Regions from separate parts of the Homo sapiens genome. Here regions 1 and 3 are each linked to region 2. Evidence: fine-mapped expression QTL. A gene starts in region 2. Each other region holds a variant in brackets. All regions are shown on one strand. Distances are between the middles of the regions.

Evidence for each region. PIP is the estimated chance that this variant, and not a neighbour inherited with it, causes the effect.
Region 1: its variant is fine-mapped to the expression of CROT in whole blood (TOPMed, PIP above 0.99).
Region 3: its variant is fine-mapped to the expression of CROT in whole blood (TOPMed, PIP above 0.99). The same link has a PIP of 0.9 or more in blood mononuclear cells.

The regions. Positions count from the first base shown.
Region 1 is chr7:87,319,895-87,325,126 of GRCh38, forward strand. No RefSeq gene overlaps it. Among named protein-coding and RNA genes, the nearest start is that of TP53TG1, 23 kb to the right of the region's middle. The variant T/G (reference allele first, on the strand shown) is at 2,599.
Region 2 is chr7:87,343,352-87,348,583 of GRCh38, forward strand. CROT (carnitine O-octanoyltransferase) reads left to right here and starts at 2,313. Exons shown (of 18, transcript NM_021151.4): 1 at 2,313-2,416; 2 at 2,989-3,079. It overlaps TP53TG1 (TP53 target 1), which reads right to left and starts at 2,141. Exons shown (of 3, transcript NR_015381.1): 1 at 1,692-2,141. RefSeq lists a silencer at 2,129-2,338.
Region 3 is chr7:87,366,258-87,371,489 of GRCh38, forward strand. It overlaps CROT (carnitine O-octanoyltransferase), which reads left to right. Exons shown (of 18, transcript NM_021151.4): 7 at 3,119-3,227. It also overlaps a transcript of ABCB4 not described here. Among named protein-coding and RNA genes, the nearest start is that of CROT, 23 kb to the left of the region's middle. The variant G/A (reference allele first, on the strand shown) is at 3,269.

The DNA.
Region 1 (5,232 bases), 23 kb before region 2:
AACATACACAAATCAATAAACGTAATCCATCACATAAACAGAACCAATGACAAAAACCACATGATTATCTCAATAGATGCAGAAAAGGCCTTCAATAAAATTCAACACCCCTTCACACTAAAAACTCTCAATAAACTAGGTATTGAGGGAACGTATCTCAAAATAGAAGAGCTATTTATGACAAACCCACAGCCAACATCATACTGAATGGGCAAAAGCTGGAAGCATTCCCTTTGAAAACCGCCACAAGATAAGGATGCCCTCTCTCACAACTGATATTCAATATAGTATTGAAAGTTCTGGCCAGGGCAATCAGGCAAGAGAAAGAAATAAAGGGTATTCAAATAGGAAAAGAGGAAGTCAAATTTTCTCTGTTTGCAGATGACATGATTGTATATTTACAAAACCCCATCGTCTCAGTCAAAAATCTCCTTAAGCTGATAAACAACTTCAGCAAAGTCTCAGGATACAAAATCAAAGTGCAAAAATCACAAGCATTCCTATACACAAATAATAGACCAACAGAGAGCCAAATCATGAGTGAACTCCCATTCACAATTGCTACAAAGAAAATAAAATAGCTAGGAATACAACTTTCAAGGGATGTGAAGGACCTATTCAAGCAGAACTACAAACCAGTGTTCAAGGAAATAAAAGAGGACACAAACAAATAGAAAAACATTCCATGCTCATGGATAGGAAGAATCAATATTGTGAAAATGGCCATACTGCCCAAAGCAATTTATAGATTCAGTGCTATATCCCCATCAAGCTACCTTGACTTTCTTCACAGAATTACAAAAAACTACTTTAAATTTCATATGGAACTGAAAAAGGGCCCACAGAGCCAAGACAATCCTAAGCAAAAAGAACAAAGCTGGAGGCATCATGCTACCTGACTGCAAACTATACTACAAGGCTACAGTAACCAACACAGCATGGTACTGGTACCAAAACAAATATATATATCAATAGAACAGAACAGAGGCCTCAGAAATAACACCACACATCTTCAACCATCTGATCTTTGACAAACTTGACAAAAACAAGCAATGGGGAAAGGATTCCCTATTTAATAAATTGTGCTGGGAAAACTGGCTAGTCATATTCAGAAAATTGAAACTGGACCTTTTCCTTACACCTTACATACAAATTAACTCAAGATGGATTAAAGAATTAAATATAAGACCTAAAACCATAAAAAACCCTAGGAGAAAACCTAGGCAATACCATTCAGGACATAGGCAGGGACAAAGACTTCATGACTAAAACACTAAAAGCAATGGCAACAAAAGCTAAAATTTACAAAAGAGATCTAATTAAACTAAAGAGCTTCTGCACAGCAAAAGAAGCTATCACCAGAGTGAATAGGCAACCTACAGAATGGAAGAAAATGTTTGCAATCTATTTATCTGACAAAGGGCTAATATCCAGAATCTACAAAGAACTTAAACAAATTTACAAGAAAAAAAAACCATCAAAAAATGGGTGAAGGATATGAACAGACGCTTCTCAAAATAAGACTTTTATGCAGCCAACAAACATATAAAAAGAAGCTCATCATCACTGGTCATTAGAGAAATGTAAATCAAAACCACAATGAGATATCATCTCACTCCAGTTAGAATGGCAATCATTAAAAAGTCAGGAAACAACAGATGCTGGAGAGGATATAGAGAAATAGGAATGCATTTACACTGTTGGTGGGAGTGTAAATTAGTTAATCCATTGTGGAAGACAGTGTGGCAATTCCTCAAGGATGTAGAACCAGAAATACCATTTGACCCAGCAATCCCATTACTGGGTTTATACGCAAAGGATTATAAATCATTCTACTCTAAAGACATATGCACATGTATGTTTATTGCAGCACTGTTTATAACAGCAAAGACTTGGAACCAACCCAAATGCCCATCAATGATAGACCGGATAAAGAAAATGTGGCACATATATACCATGGAATACTATGCAGCCATAAAAACAGATGAGTTCATGTCCTTTGCAGGGACATGGATGAAGTTGGAAACCATCATTCTCAGCAAACTAACACAGGAACAGAAAACCAAACACCTCATGTTCTCACTCATAAGTGGTTGTTGAACAATGAGAACACATGGATACAGGGAGGGGAACATCACACACTGGGGCCTGTTGGGGGATGGGGGGCTAGGGCAGGGATAGCATTAGGAGAAATACCTAATGTAGATGATGGGTTGATGGGTACAGCAAACCACCATGGCATGTGTATATCTATGTAACAAACCTGCACGTCCTGCACATGTACCCCAGAACTTAATGTATAATTTAAAAAAAGACGAGATGGGTAGATCACGAGGTCAGGAGATCAAGACCATCCTGGCTAACACAGTGAAACCCTCTCTCTACTGAAAAATACAAAAAATTAGCTGGGCATGGTGGCAGGCACCTGCAGTCCCAGCTACTCGGGAGTCTGAGGCAGGATAATGGCGTGAACCAAGGAGGTGGAGCTTGCAGTGATCCGAGATTGCACCACTGCACTCCAGCCTGGGCGGCAGAGTGAGACTCTGTCTCAAAATAAAAAAAAAGAAAAAAATTACCCAATCTGTTGATAGCTTTAAC[T/G]TATAAAATGTCTTATTATTGAAAACATGGAGAATATGAAAATGTAGAAAGAAAGAAATCACACATGGTTTTACCACTCAGTAATCATCATTGTTAATATTCTGAAGTATGTTTTTTGAGGTGTTTTTTCATAAAGTGGTTTAATGGGGATACTTAAAAGTTGCTAGGTGGGGGTTCTCTGTGCATTTTCCCTTCAGTGGCATTTAAGAAAAGTGCTGCTGGCATTCCATCCACTCATTTTCATCTCTTCCATATCCTTCTTTCTTACTGCTTCTCTTGAAAAATTGCATTCTTTTCTTTATTTTTTTTTCTTTTTGCCTTTAAGGGATGTTACAGTCTTGCCAGTGCACCACAATGTAGCAATCTCTCATTTTGAGGTATCACCCAGAGCTCTTTGTCTCAGGACTAAGAAAATTAAGAAGCATGGACACAAAGGGTGAGGTTGGAGCAAAAGTTTAATAAAGTTTAATAAGCAAAGAAGAAAGCTCTCCACCACTGAGAAGGGGCCTGGAAGAGAGTTGCCATTTTTACAGTTGAATGCAAAAGCTTTTATAAAAGAGGATAGCTGGGCATTTCATCTGCATAAAGCATGAATTTCTGCTAGCTCCACCCTGTCCTCCTAGTGTACATGTGGGCCCTTAGCTTGAGGTACTCCAAATTGCTTTGTTCCCCAAAGTATGTGTGAGGGGGGCAGAACTTTGCTGAGCATGTCTGGACAAGTCACCTGTGAAGCCTTTCTTATCTGTGTGGCTGTGGCCATGTCTTAGGCAAGCCGCCCTGTGCAAGTTCCCTTATATGTGCCTTCAGGCTGTTCTTTTGTTTGAAAGAATTCAACCAATGACCCACTTTAACTGCCTCCCTGACCTCTTTCTTCCTTTCTCCTGTCTTATTTCCCTCCTCAAGGGTGGAGACCCTAACTGGTCTTAGGGGGAATGGGGTGATGATTCTTCTAGCTACTTCCTACTGGAAAGGGGCACTGCATGGGGAACAGCAGCTAGGGTTTCTCCTGGGGCTGGTCTAAGGATTCCTGGAAGAAAGGCATATCCATGTATTGTTTCATTTGCATTACCATTTGGAGTTTGATAGTCTTTAGGCAAGAAGAAACAATTTGGGTTATTAGAGGAAACAAGCAGGGGATAAGCACAGCTTAAAAATCCCAAGGCTGCTGACATGTACAGATAACTGGTGGCCACAGTTATGCCCACTAAGATTTGAGTGCAAGGGGCTTGGCTTTGGTTAACTTCCTTGGTTTTATTTTCCCAAAGAAACCTCTGGGTTATGGGTACCCTATTTACTCCCATCACCTGACAGGATTTGTAGGATAATTGCCAAGAACTAGAATATTCAGATTTGTACATCACCCATCCCTTTTTGCACTTTCTGAGCTGCAGCCAGAGATTGCTGGTTGGCTTATAGGAATAAGCAGGATTAGTTTAAAATGTAGGCAAAAACTTAAAAACAATCAATGAGATTAGAATTAATGACAAGCATATGATATGTTTTGAAACATAATTTTTCTGTCTCTACTCATTTTTGTTAAAAAAACAAATCATGATAGGACTGAGTTGTTTGCAAAATCAACTTTAGTTTTATACTTGGCCTGATTATTTGTACAAAGCACAGCAAGAATAATTATTTTTACATAGGTTTTTATATTATCTTTGATGAAACTGTTCCACAGGAATCTCAGAACTTTTTAAAGCTGAGCCCAGCCATGGGTTTGTACCCTCAAATACCTATGAGTTGGGTGAATTCCTCTCTCCTTGAGGTCCTAAGAACATGGTGTTCCTGGGCCTGTAGAAAGTGATATTCTTTACTCACCACAGGTTAGGAACCCTGTTCGGGGGCTGTGTAGACAAAGTATGAGGCAGTTTTCCCAAGGGGCTTTTATTGGCTCTGCAAGTCAAGCTCGATTCCTTAAAGGGAAGCACAGCCTTTAGTCAAAACCTTGAGAAAACAACCAGTTTCTCCAATTGTGTCCTCTTGTAAAAGAAAATGATTCTCATTGTGCTGATGCAAATAATTATATTGCCATGAGTTAAGAATACTCACAAATACTTTCCAAGTTCTAGAGGAACCAGAGAGAAACAAATAAATATGCTCTGAATTTTATTTACAGAAGTATACCTTACATAATTATTAGAGGCTATAAATAGCTTAAAATAAGTTTCCTTGACTCTGAAAAACAAAATAAGGATCAGCAACATTTTAAGCAAAAAGGTTAAAAAGTCCATTTTGTTAACTCTTGTTTTGCTTGATATTCATGAATATTTTAGCTCTTCATGAGTCCTGTACATTTTTCCTTTATTCCAATGTCATAATCTCCAAAGTTATCAGAAACTTGCATTTGAGAGCATGTGTCAAAGTCCTATAGCTGATTATAAACCATCCTTTAAAGAGGATTAAAACAAGACGATTTTGAATGGTGAAATGTCCAAGGTAGTTAGTCAAGAACATGACTGACAAATTTTATTATTTCTGTGTTTTACAATAACTTAACATAATAACCTTAATTATGATTTCTAGCATATACTCAGACATTAGAATTTTAGAAATCCCATACAATTTTGGAAAATATATTAATATTATTCACTAAAATATAACCTGAAGATCATTAAACACCATTTGGCCAAT
Region 2 (5,232 bases):
CTCTTTGCGTCCAGTGTACTTTAATTTGCTGTTGGCTGCTTCCCAAAATGACCATATTTCTACTGCCCCCCCATTAAAAAGAAGAAACATCACAAAATTATTTCTTCAACATGTTCATTTTATACATCAGAATGAAAGGAGGTTACAGGTCTCCCATAGATTAGGGCTATTTACCATATCTCCTTACTTATTAGAGTCACAAATCTTAGCAGGAAGCCAGTTATGCAGATTGAAACATGAACTTCTTAGTCTAGCATTTTAATACTTTTTAATGGTGAAATTTATCTAGACTTATCTATAAAGTCTTTTGCAATTTGTGGTATGCTGAGTAAGAACTACAGAAGAACAAAAATAAAAGATTTTTTTAATGGCAACTTAAAAAATTATCACCACTTGTACTACTTACAAATTTTCCTCCAAAAAGTTACTTTGACTCATAGTCAATTTTTAATCTTGGAACAACTTCTTGCTATCACAAATACTTCAAGTGCCTAAAACATCTTCCTTACCAGCCAATATCTCCCGCTCCACTCTAAGAAATGCAAACTCGTTCAAGTTTAACCTGAATGCAACATAATTTGGAATCTTTCATTAAAATATATATCACACATTTTGAAGCCAAACATATTTTAAAATACCTGTTTTTGGTGATTTGGGGTACATATGCTTATCAGTATAACATATTTTAAAAGATTTTTTTCTACATACTCAAATCTGTGTTCCATTCATTTTTTCACTCCCACACCTTTTTGTCTATCCGATAATTCAGGAATCTTTACAGAAACATCTTGTTTCCATTGAAATAAACAACAAGAGTAGGAAAAAGAGTGAAGCGAAATGGTTCTAAATTCTATGCACCAACAGGCATTAAACATGCATAAACTTTTAAAGAGATGCCAAGACTCACTAAAAAGGAGAAAAAAAATACAACGAAGGTTTCTGAGTAGTTTTTAGTTACTCAATTTAAAAACTTTATCTTGTAAGCAAACTTTAACATCATCCAGAGCATCGCACTTATATATGAAAGAAAAAGTTCTTTATCACACCTTCAGAAATTACAACTACAAATTCCTAATCCCTTATTTAAAATCTTTTTGGCTAGATATGTTTCAAAATTCAGAACTTTTCTTAGAATAGTACGTCTGCCATATATTATGAAACACTTCCAGCAAGCTGTACTGTAATCAAACACAATATTTCTGTAGAAAACTTATGAATATTTACACAAAGGGAACATTCAGTTACACATAGCCTCACTTCCCTTCAGGTCAAACTTTACTGCTAAAGGAGTTAGAAACGACAGACAAAGGAATGGGGCCTGTCATGACATGTTAATTTGAAATCTAAATCTTTATCTTTGATAACTAGTTCAGAGTCAGTGTAAACATTTGGTCTTTCCTTCCACAAAAAAATGAAACAGTGTATTTAAAATTAAAAATGAAACAGTATATTTTATTTCAGAAGGTAAAAGCAAAATGAATTAATCTGTGAAACTAAGTCAATCACATTATGATCTTCTAGAACTTGGGTAGCTCCACTCTGGTTAAAGATTCCATTTCTTGGCACAACAGTAAAAGACATCAGATAGGCCCGGGGGTAAGCATCCCTGGGGTATTCAAATAACTTGGGTAGCAATGAAGAGCTGCAGAAGAGCAAGGAGACCCGAGATGATGTAGTGTGCTGCGGCATACCTGAGTTGGGCAAACTCAGCCTCCGAAGATTAAAGGAAAGAGCCCAAGTAGGAATCTGTGTGATCACTGTTCTTTTGCCAAGACACGGGGTGGACAATAAGATTCCTTTACAAAGCACTGGTGTAAGTGTTCGCCTGGTGCTGCAAAAAGCGGCTCACTGGGAATGGGGAGGAGCGTGTGGTAAGCCAGACCTGCGGCGAGAAGTTGGGTGAAAATGGGTCTTAACCATCGCTTCCTGCATCTATCCCAGAGGGTTGGGTACCTTCGTGGGCGGAGCGCGGCCTGCCCAGAGTGCCTTCTAGATCCTGGGTCAGGCGCCAAGCTCCCCAGCATCATGCAGGAAGCTGCAGCCCCGCAGAGTTAGGACAGCTCATTTGGCACCCGGCGAGCCCTTCCCAGGCCCGCAGCCCAGAATAGAGCCGGGGCCCAAGACGCCCACTGGAGACAGGGTCGGGTCCCACTACCGCGCAGGCCCGGCTCGCCCCCGACGTCAGGCACGGGGCGGGACCCTTGCAGCTGTCCGTCCAGTCCCGTTCCCCGGAAAGTGAGGGGCGGGACCCTCGCGGCTTTCTATCCAATCCTGTTCCCCGGCGAATGCGGGGCGGGACCCTAGCGGCCTTCAGTCCAATTCCCGCACCTTTGAGGCCCAAGGGGGAGCGAGCCGGTGCTGCTGCAGGCTGAGGCTGCGGCAGAGGCGGCGAGGCGCGGGCGGTGAGGACGGACAGGTCCGTTGAAGCAGCATTCCCTCCCTCCCCTAATCCTTCAACTCGGGGGCGGGGGAAAGTTAAGTCGTGCAGAACCGCAAAGGTGCCTGGATTTGGTGGGGGAGTAGTGTCATCAAGCATCTCGCCTGCTGGGGTCTCAGGGGTACCCTCAAGGTTGGGCCGCGGGGCTGCTCCGTTGTAGTGCTTAGATTTCTCTCACTTGATGGCCTCTTGAGTGCAGAGTTGCTCTTGGGTTGGTGGGAAGAGCCTCCGAGCTCTCATTGCCCTCTGCTCCTGCTTCTACCCCTTGCCACTCTGCGACGAACCTGTTACCCAGCCACTGAAAACGTATCCTCTACCCTTTGAACCCGTCTAATGGAAGGTGTACTTGTCTGAAACCTACTTAATTGTATGATCATTTACTCCTGCTCTCTAGCAGGTGGACTATTTGCGTGTGTTTGCAGTGATTCACGAAAAGTTTGTCTTGGGAACTCCCAACTCCTAGTTTGTCTGCATTCCACCTTCTTTCACTAGCTTGTTCATTTCTTTTTCCCTCTTAAATATTTGTTAAGCTTGTTTCTTTCTTCCCACAGTCACCGACTTAGTCCAGTTCCCTGTGATCTCAAAACAATTGTTGCAGCAGGCTCCTGGCAGTCTCAAGCAGTTCATCTTCTTGGTGTACTGGTATGTGACAATTCCTTCACGTATTGTTCGTGGTTCTTTTCCACTTTCTGTGAATTCATATCTAATTGCCCCCAGAAAGTCAATTCTAATTAAATCTAGCATAATCATTTTCTTAGTGCTATTGGAACCATCTTATTTAACTTAATCTTTGTGGTTGAGAATTCAAGAAAACTCTTCAAGAAAGAATCCAATAATTTATATTTTTAATGTGTACCGGTTGGTGGGTTAAGCACTATAGTGGGTATGTAACTAATACTCTTGCTTCCAGTTTTCTAGAGTCTATTAAGTGGCACAGAGGTAAACAGAATAGCTTATCTTCTCTGTATGTGTGTACTAGTCTTCTATTGCTGCCTTAACCAATTACACAAATGCAACAATTAAAACAACACAAATGTATTATCTCATAGCTTCTGTAAATGTGAAGTTTGGGTGGGCTTAGCTGAGTACTTGGCTTAGAATTTCACAAAACCGAAACCAAGGTTTCTGTAGATTTGGATTCTTTTCTGGAGGCTCTAGGGGAGAATCCACCTCCAGGCTATTTCAGATTGTTGGTAGAATTCACACTGACATTTCTATATCCTTACTGTTTGTCAGCCTGAGCCTCTTTCAGTTCTTTAAGGCCATCTGCATCTTCAAAGACACCACAAATCCTTCTCAAGCATTAAAGCAGTCTTACTTGTCTGCCACTGGCCAGAGAAAGCTCTTTGCTCTTATGGACTCAAGTGATTAGATTAGTTCCAATTCGATAATATCCCTATTTTAAGGTCAGTTCTGTAGAGAATATCACAATCACAGGAGTAATGATCTCACCATATTCGCAGGTTCTGGGGATTAGCAGGGGTGGAATCTTGGGGGCCATTCATAGTAATTGTGCCTACCACAATATGGTGGTTTCAGGCAGGATTATTTTGTTTTTATAATGTGCTTTCACAGGCATTGAAAACAAATTCTGACTTTATTGAATTGTATGATTAACCACTCTAAGATAAGGAAATTCACTTAAAGTTGGTTGCCCTAGGGGCACATGGCTAGAAAGTGGCAGAGTCTGTACTTGGATCCAGATCTACATTTCCATTAGGTACAAACCCATTTTTATGGATGGTCAAAATGGTGTGCAGCCAAAGTCAATAGATAGAAAGAAGCTAAAGAACTTTGAGTTAATTATTATTTCTCATTTTCAAATTATCTCTTTATATTAGTGGTACAGGCTAAGCTCTTCTCCCTACAATAGAAAGCCCAAAATACAATGGTATGAATAAAATAGAAGTTTTTTTTTTTCCATACATCTAGAGGTAGGAGTCCAGGACTAGTAGGGAGATTCTGCAATCCTGCATATATGACTTCCATAAATGAGGCCATGGTGCTGTTTAGTTCGTCACTACCTAGCAGGTAGTAAAAAGGAGGGAAAGTGCAGGGAGAACACATGCATTCCTTTTTGGGAGCATGACCTGGAAGTGACACACACAAGGTCATCACAAAGCCACACTGAGCTCCAAGAGAGGGTAGGAAAGATAAAACTGGGGGCTGTATGCACAGCTACAACTCAGGATTCTGTTAAAGCAGAGGAAAACAGGTATTAGCTGAAAATAGTCTCTTCTGTGTCCATGTTTTTGATAGTGTTCGATTCTGTAACCTATGAGTGGAATACTTTGTTTAGCGTTGCTATCAGTTTTAAAAAATAGTTTTTGAGAGAATAGGAAGTTCAAATTCAATATTAACGTTCTTTGATTTCTCAGTTGCTATTTTAACATATAATTACATTTAATATATTACATTATTTAATATAATTAATATATGATAATTTACAAAGGCTTTGAGAAACCTCATTTTTTATTTAGCATTTGTATACCTTATTCACATTTTGAGTTAGATTTCTTTGATAGCAATTAATACACGTGTCAATATGTTCAAGATTGCTTTGGAACACTTGAGACCATTCTGTGTAGACCTCATACGACCTGTGCAATTAAAGCAGCTTGTCATATGATTTATGTATTCTATAATAATCTTTAATTCTACAGTTGGACACTTCCACACCTCTTTGTACTTTGTGCTCCAAAGTTTTCTATATCAATGCAATATCAACACATAATCCTTTTCTATACATCAAATACTATCTACCCACTAAGATTTACTGCAGGTTCCCTTACCTT
Region 3 (5,232 bases), 23 kb after region 2:
ATATAGCACTACAGGGCCTGTGGGAGGTGTTGGTATCCTTTTTGTTTCCCTCTGCCCTTTCTGTTTTCCCTTCGTCCTTAACAATTTTAGCCTTTTTGGGGAAAAAAAAATGCCTTCAGGTTATATCACCACTACATTGTTGCAGTGACTTTCCTCCTGCCCATTCCCCTTCATCTATTGATTGCTTTAGCTCCAGTGCCTGTCTTTCTTTCCATTACTACCTCAGTCATATTCTTGATGATTTTAGCTTTCAATTGTAGACGATCCATAGGCTCTCATTTCCTTCAGTTTATAGCTCTAGGAAACTACATCTTTCAGTACTCCAACTCAGCTGTTCCTTTGGCCACATTGTGATTTACAGTTTAATGATGCTACTGCTCTCTTCATGGCTCCATTCCTACTTCCCCGTCTTCACTTCTTTCTGGTTCTTCACCATCATTACTCCCAGGCATACACATTCAAATCTTTGCTACCTCTCCCCAGTACTGATGTGGTAAAACCTAAACATCGTTTAAAATTTAATTTGTCTTTTCTCTACATATCAAAGATACCTACTCTAGCAATTTACTTGGCCAGAGAAAACCATAAAACTTACTTAATGATCTCAGTTAAATCTCAAGTTGGCCCCCAGCACTACGGTGCTATCTTCCTTGGTTAGCTTATTCTTTCACTTCCAGAGAAGACTGTTTTATGCCTTTCGCTCTCCTTCTTGTTAGCTAACAAACTCTTGTTTTTCACAACAGATATGAGCAATCTTCCCATCATGACATTTACCAGCCTTTCAGTGATGGGCAGAATAATGGTCCCCCATAGATGTCTACTTTCTAATCCCTGAAATTGTTAATATGTTAGGTTACATGGTAAAGAGGAATTAAGGTTGCTAGTCAGTTGACCTTGAAATGGGGACGTTATCCTAGATTATTCACATGTGCCCAAAGTATATAATCACAAGGGTCCTTATTCATGGAAGAGGGAGGCAAAGGAGAGAACCAAAGAGATGGAAGTATGAGAAGGTTATGATCTTCCCTTGATGGCTTTGAAGATGGAAGAAGGGGTTCATGAGCCCAAGGAATGTGGATAGCCTCTAAAAGCTGGAAAAAGGAAGGAAACCAATTTTCTTCTAGAGCCTCTAGAAGGAACACAGCCCTGATGGCACCTTCATTTTAGCCCAGTAAGACACATTTCAGATTTCTGGTCCTTAGACCTGTAAGATAATAAATTTGTGTTGTTTTAAGCTACCAAGTCAGTAGTAATTTGTTTTTGCAACCAGTGAAAATATACTGATTCAAATATTTGCCCATTCTCTACCCCCTTGCAATATGTTACTGCAAATTCATATACTTTTCTTTTCTTTTTAAAATACAGATGAACTCCTCTGACTCCTAAGGACAACTCTTCTATATCTGTGCTGAGTCCCGCTTCCTCTTGCTTAGTCAAGAAACTTGCTTTTGCATTATCCTCTCTCTCTGCTGCTTATCAGTTTTTTTCTTTACTTGATTGTTCCAGTCTGTAATATCTTCCATCTTAAAAGGAAAACAATTCACCTCATGTCTCCTTCAAGTATCAGGCCCCAGTCGAAGCCATCATCCTATCTCTCTTAGATTGTTCTCACCTGGACAACTTTAGTCACCTCCTAACTTGGCATACCTTCTCTTCACCCTTGTAATCTGTTCTCCATGTAACAGCTGGAGGGATCTTTTTAGTGAGACCACATTATCACTCCCTTGCTTAAAACCATCCATTGGTTTCCTTCCCATCATACTGGAAACCACTTTCTGAGGCCAGTATAATCGGGTCTCAACCTTATCTACCACTCTATCCTTTTCTCTGTGCCGCAGCTGCACTGACCTTGTTTTCCTTTAAGCAGATCAACTCATGTTTATTCTAATGCCTTTGTGCTTGCTGTTTCCTCTGCCTGAAACACTTCTGCGGGTATTTACATGGCGTACTTTCTCACTCCATTCAGTTTTCTGCTCAAATATCCGCCAGGTTTATTGTGAGGTAGCACCCTTCTGCCACCCTCACCCTTTCCAACCATTTATTGATTAATTTGGCATCAGGTTTATTTTCTTTTTTCTTTTCCAGCCCTAAACTTTGAAAGGGGTGTGGTCAGGAGATGACAGCAATAAAAGAGTGGTGGTCGTAGAGGTAAAAGGATCTGGAGGTTTTTGAAGGGGAAGAAAGAAGAAATGGTTTGGAGGTAGCCATGAGGAACAAGGAAAACACATATCTCATCCCCTAGGTCTTGAGGAAATAAGGTATAAGAGAAAAAAGAGTATTTTTATCAGGAGACTGTTCTTCCTCATAGTTGATGAAAAGATTTCATAAGATAATGTATGTAAAGCACTTAATACTGACCCGTAAATAATACCCACCACTATATTTCCTTCAAGCGGCAGTGTATGTCTTCTCTTTCTTCCTCTTTTTCCATTTTCTTTTCTTAGAAGGTAGGGGCAGGGATCACATAAGAAGATCCTTGGCAAAAGGACAAGTACCTAAAGATGGGGTTATATCAGAATAGTCTGAGGTTTACAGCAAACAAACAGTTCTTGGGGAGTTAAGGTGTGCCAAAGAAATCAGAGATAATCCATTGTCAGTGGCTTACCAGGTGTTACCAGACTGGACAAAATTCTTTTCCTTTGCCACTGGCATACTGTATCCTTTTCTACTGAAAATTATTTTATTGAGTTATCATAGCTAGATATTACTGCAATTAAATTATCTGATGAGTAATTAACATTAAAATAATCCAAAAGAGAAACCTGTTAATTCAAATGGCTGTCCTCCAAGATTCCACTGGTCTCCTTCTCCCCTTCCCATTTCTGTTCCTAAGTAAAATTAGAAAGGTCTGTAGTAGTTTGGGATTTATGTGGTTTTCAGGGTATTTGAAACTCATTGATTTCTAGATGTCTCACATGGAACAAGTGTCAGGAGTATGTATTTATATCATAGTAACTGCAATTCCATTAATACATTATTTTTGTTATGTGATATATTTGATGACTATATGATAAATAAAATACTGGAAGAATGCCTACTTTTCTTCTATTGGATATATGCATCTTTACTCCTGTTTAACCTTAGATTTGAGTCTTGTGTTTTCTGTTTCTGTTTCCAGAGAGTGAAGGGCGTTCCCCAAACCACATTGTAGTGCTGTGTCGAGGCCGAGCTTTTGTCTTTGATGTAATACATGAAGGATGTTTGGTCACCCCGCCAGAGCTTCTCAGGTTTTCAGACTACTTTCTTGAGTTTCATTAGGTCTTATGGT[G/A]TTGCTTGAATTAAAATATACATGTTTAGAATTGCCTTTCAAGGTGATAGTAAGCTGAAAAATAAGAATTTTATGCATGCTTTTTTAAAAAAAAATCTATTTGTATTTTTTATTTAAATTATTTTTAAATTTTACTAGACATATATAAATATGTTCACTTGGAGAAAAGGAAAACATTACATATATTACCAATTCCATTCCCTGCCCCAGAATTAATCACTCTTACTAGTTTAGTGTGTTCCATTGTTCCATACCTGTTGCAATGAATTTACATGTATACCTAGCTTAAAAAATATATATAATATATAATATGTATTATATATGTATATACATATATATGGTATACATCTTCTATGTATATGTTTTAAAGTATATTACAGAAAATTTCAAAATGTATAGGGGATTATATAATGATAACTCCCGTGTACCCATCTCCTAACTTCAACAGTTACCAACTCCTAGCATCAACAGTTATAAACTCATAGTCAATGCTGTTTCAACTATACCTCTTTTACCTTTTCCCTCACTTTCCCATGGATTATTTTGAAGATAATCTGACATAATATCCTTTCACTATAGATATTTCAGTATACATCTCTAAAATAGAAGGACTCTTAAAATACACATTTAGTACCATTATCATACCTAATGACTTCTAAAAAATAATTTTTTTTTTGAGACAGAGTCTTGCTTTGTGTCCAGGCTGGAGTGCAGAGGCACAATCTCGGCTCACTGCACCCTCCACATTCCAGGTTCAAGTGATTCTTCTGCCTCAGCCTCCCAAGTAGCTAGGATTATAGGTGCGCACCACCATGGCCAGCTAATTATTGTATTTTTAGTAGGGATGAGGTTTTGCCGTGTTGGCCAAGCTGGTCTTGAACTCCTGGCCTTAAATAATCCGCCTGCCTTGGCCTCCCAAAGTGCTGGGATTACAGGCATGAGCCACCACACCCAGCCAAATAAACAGTGTTTTAATATCATTAACAGAGAATCAGTTGTTCTAATTGTTTTCTAATTGTTGGGTATATATATCTATTTATAACTTAAATTAGTTTTATTAAATATTGCAAACATGTACAAAACTGCACACAGAAATGTACAACTAAATATTCATGTAACCTGCACCCAGGTCAAAAATTAGAACATTTCTAATACTCCAAAGATTCCCGTCATCCCTCTTCCAGACTTTCACTCCTTCCCAGGGGCAGTCATTTAGGTTGTTTACAGTTTGCATTATTATTTGAAAAAGGCTGCTGTGAAAATCCTTGTGTAAGTCTTTTGGTGTACACATGCATGTATTTCTGTCTGGAGCACACCCAGGAGAGAATTTGCTGAGTCATAGGATATGTGTATGTTCAGCTTCAATAGATAATGCCAGTTTTCCAAAGTAGTTATGTCTACTAGTGTGTGAATGTTGTAGGAGTTCCTTACATTCTGGGTAAGAGTTCTTACTTGGTTGTGTGTGTTGCAATACACAGAGTAGAAGATGTTTATAATTGATCTTTTGTTCTATTAAACACATCTTCCTGATGAACAGAAGTTCTTAATTGAATGAACTCCAGTTTATTAATCTTTTAATCTTTACCATACAGATTATACATTTTGTGTTCTGTTTTAAAAAATTTTTCCCTAACTCAGTGCCAAGAAGATAATTTCCTATGTTCTAGAATTTTGTGTTGACTTTTACGTTTGTATTTATAGTCTTCCTAGAGTTAATTGATTTTTTTGTTTGACATGAGGCATGGGGTAGTTGCACATTTAAAAAATAGTGTTATTTTTATAGTTAGCTTCTTTTAATCAACAATAAATGTAATCTTTCCATATTGGTACAAATACATCTACCTTATTCTTTTAAACTATTACATAGAATTCCATCAAATGGATATATTATAGTTGATGTGACCATTTCTTTATGATATGACATTAAAGTTGTTTCCATTTGTTGCTATAACAAATAATTAACA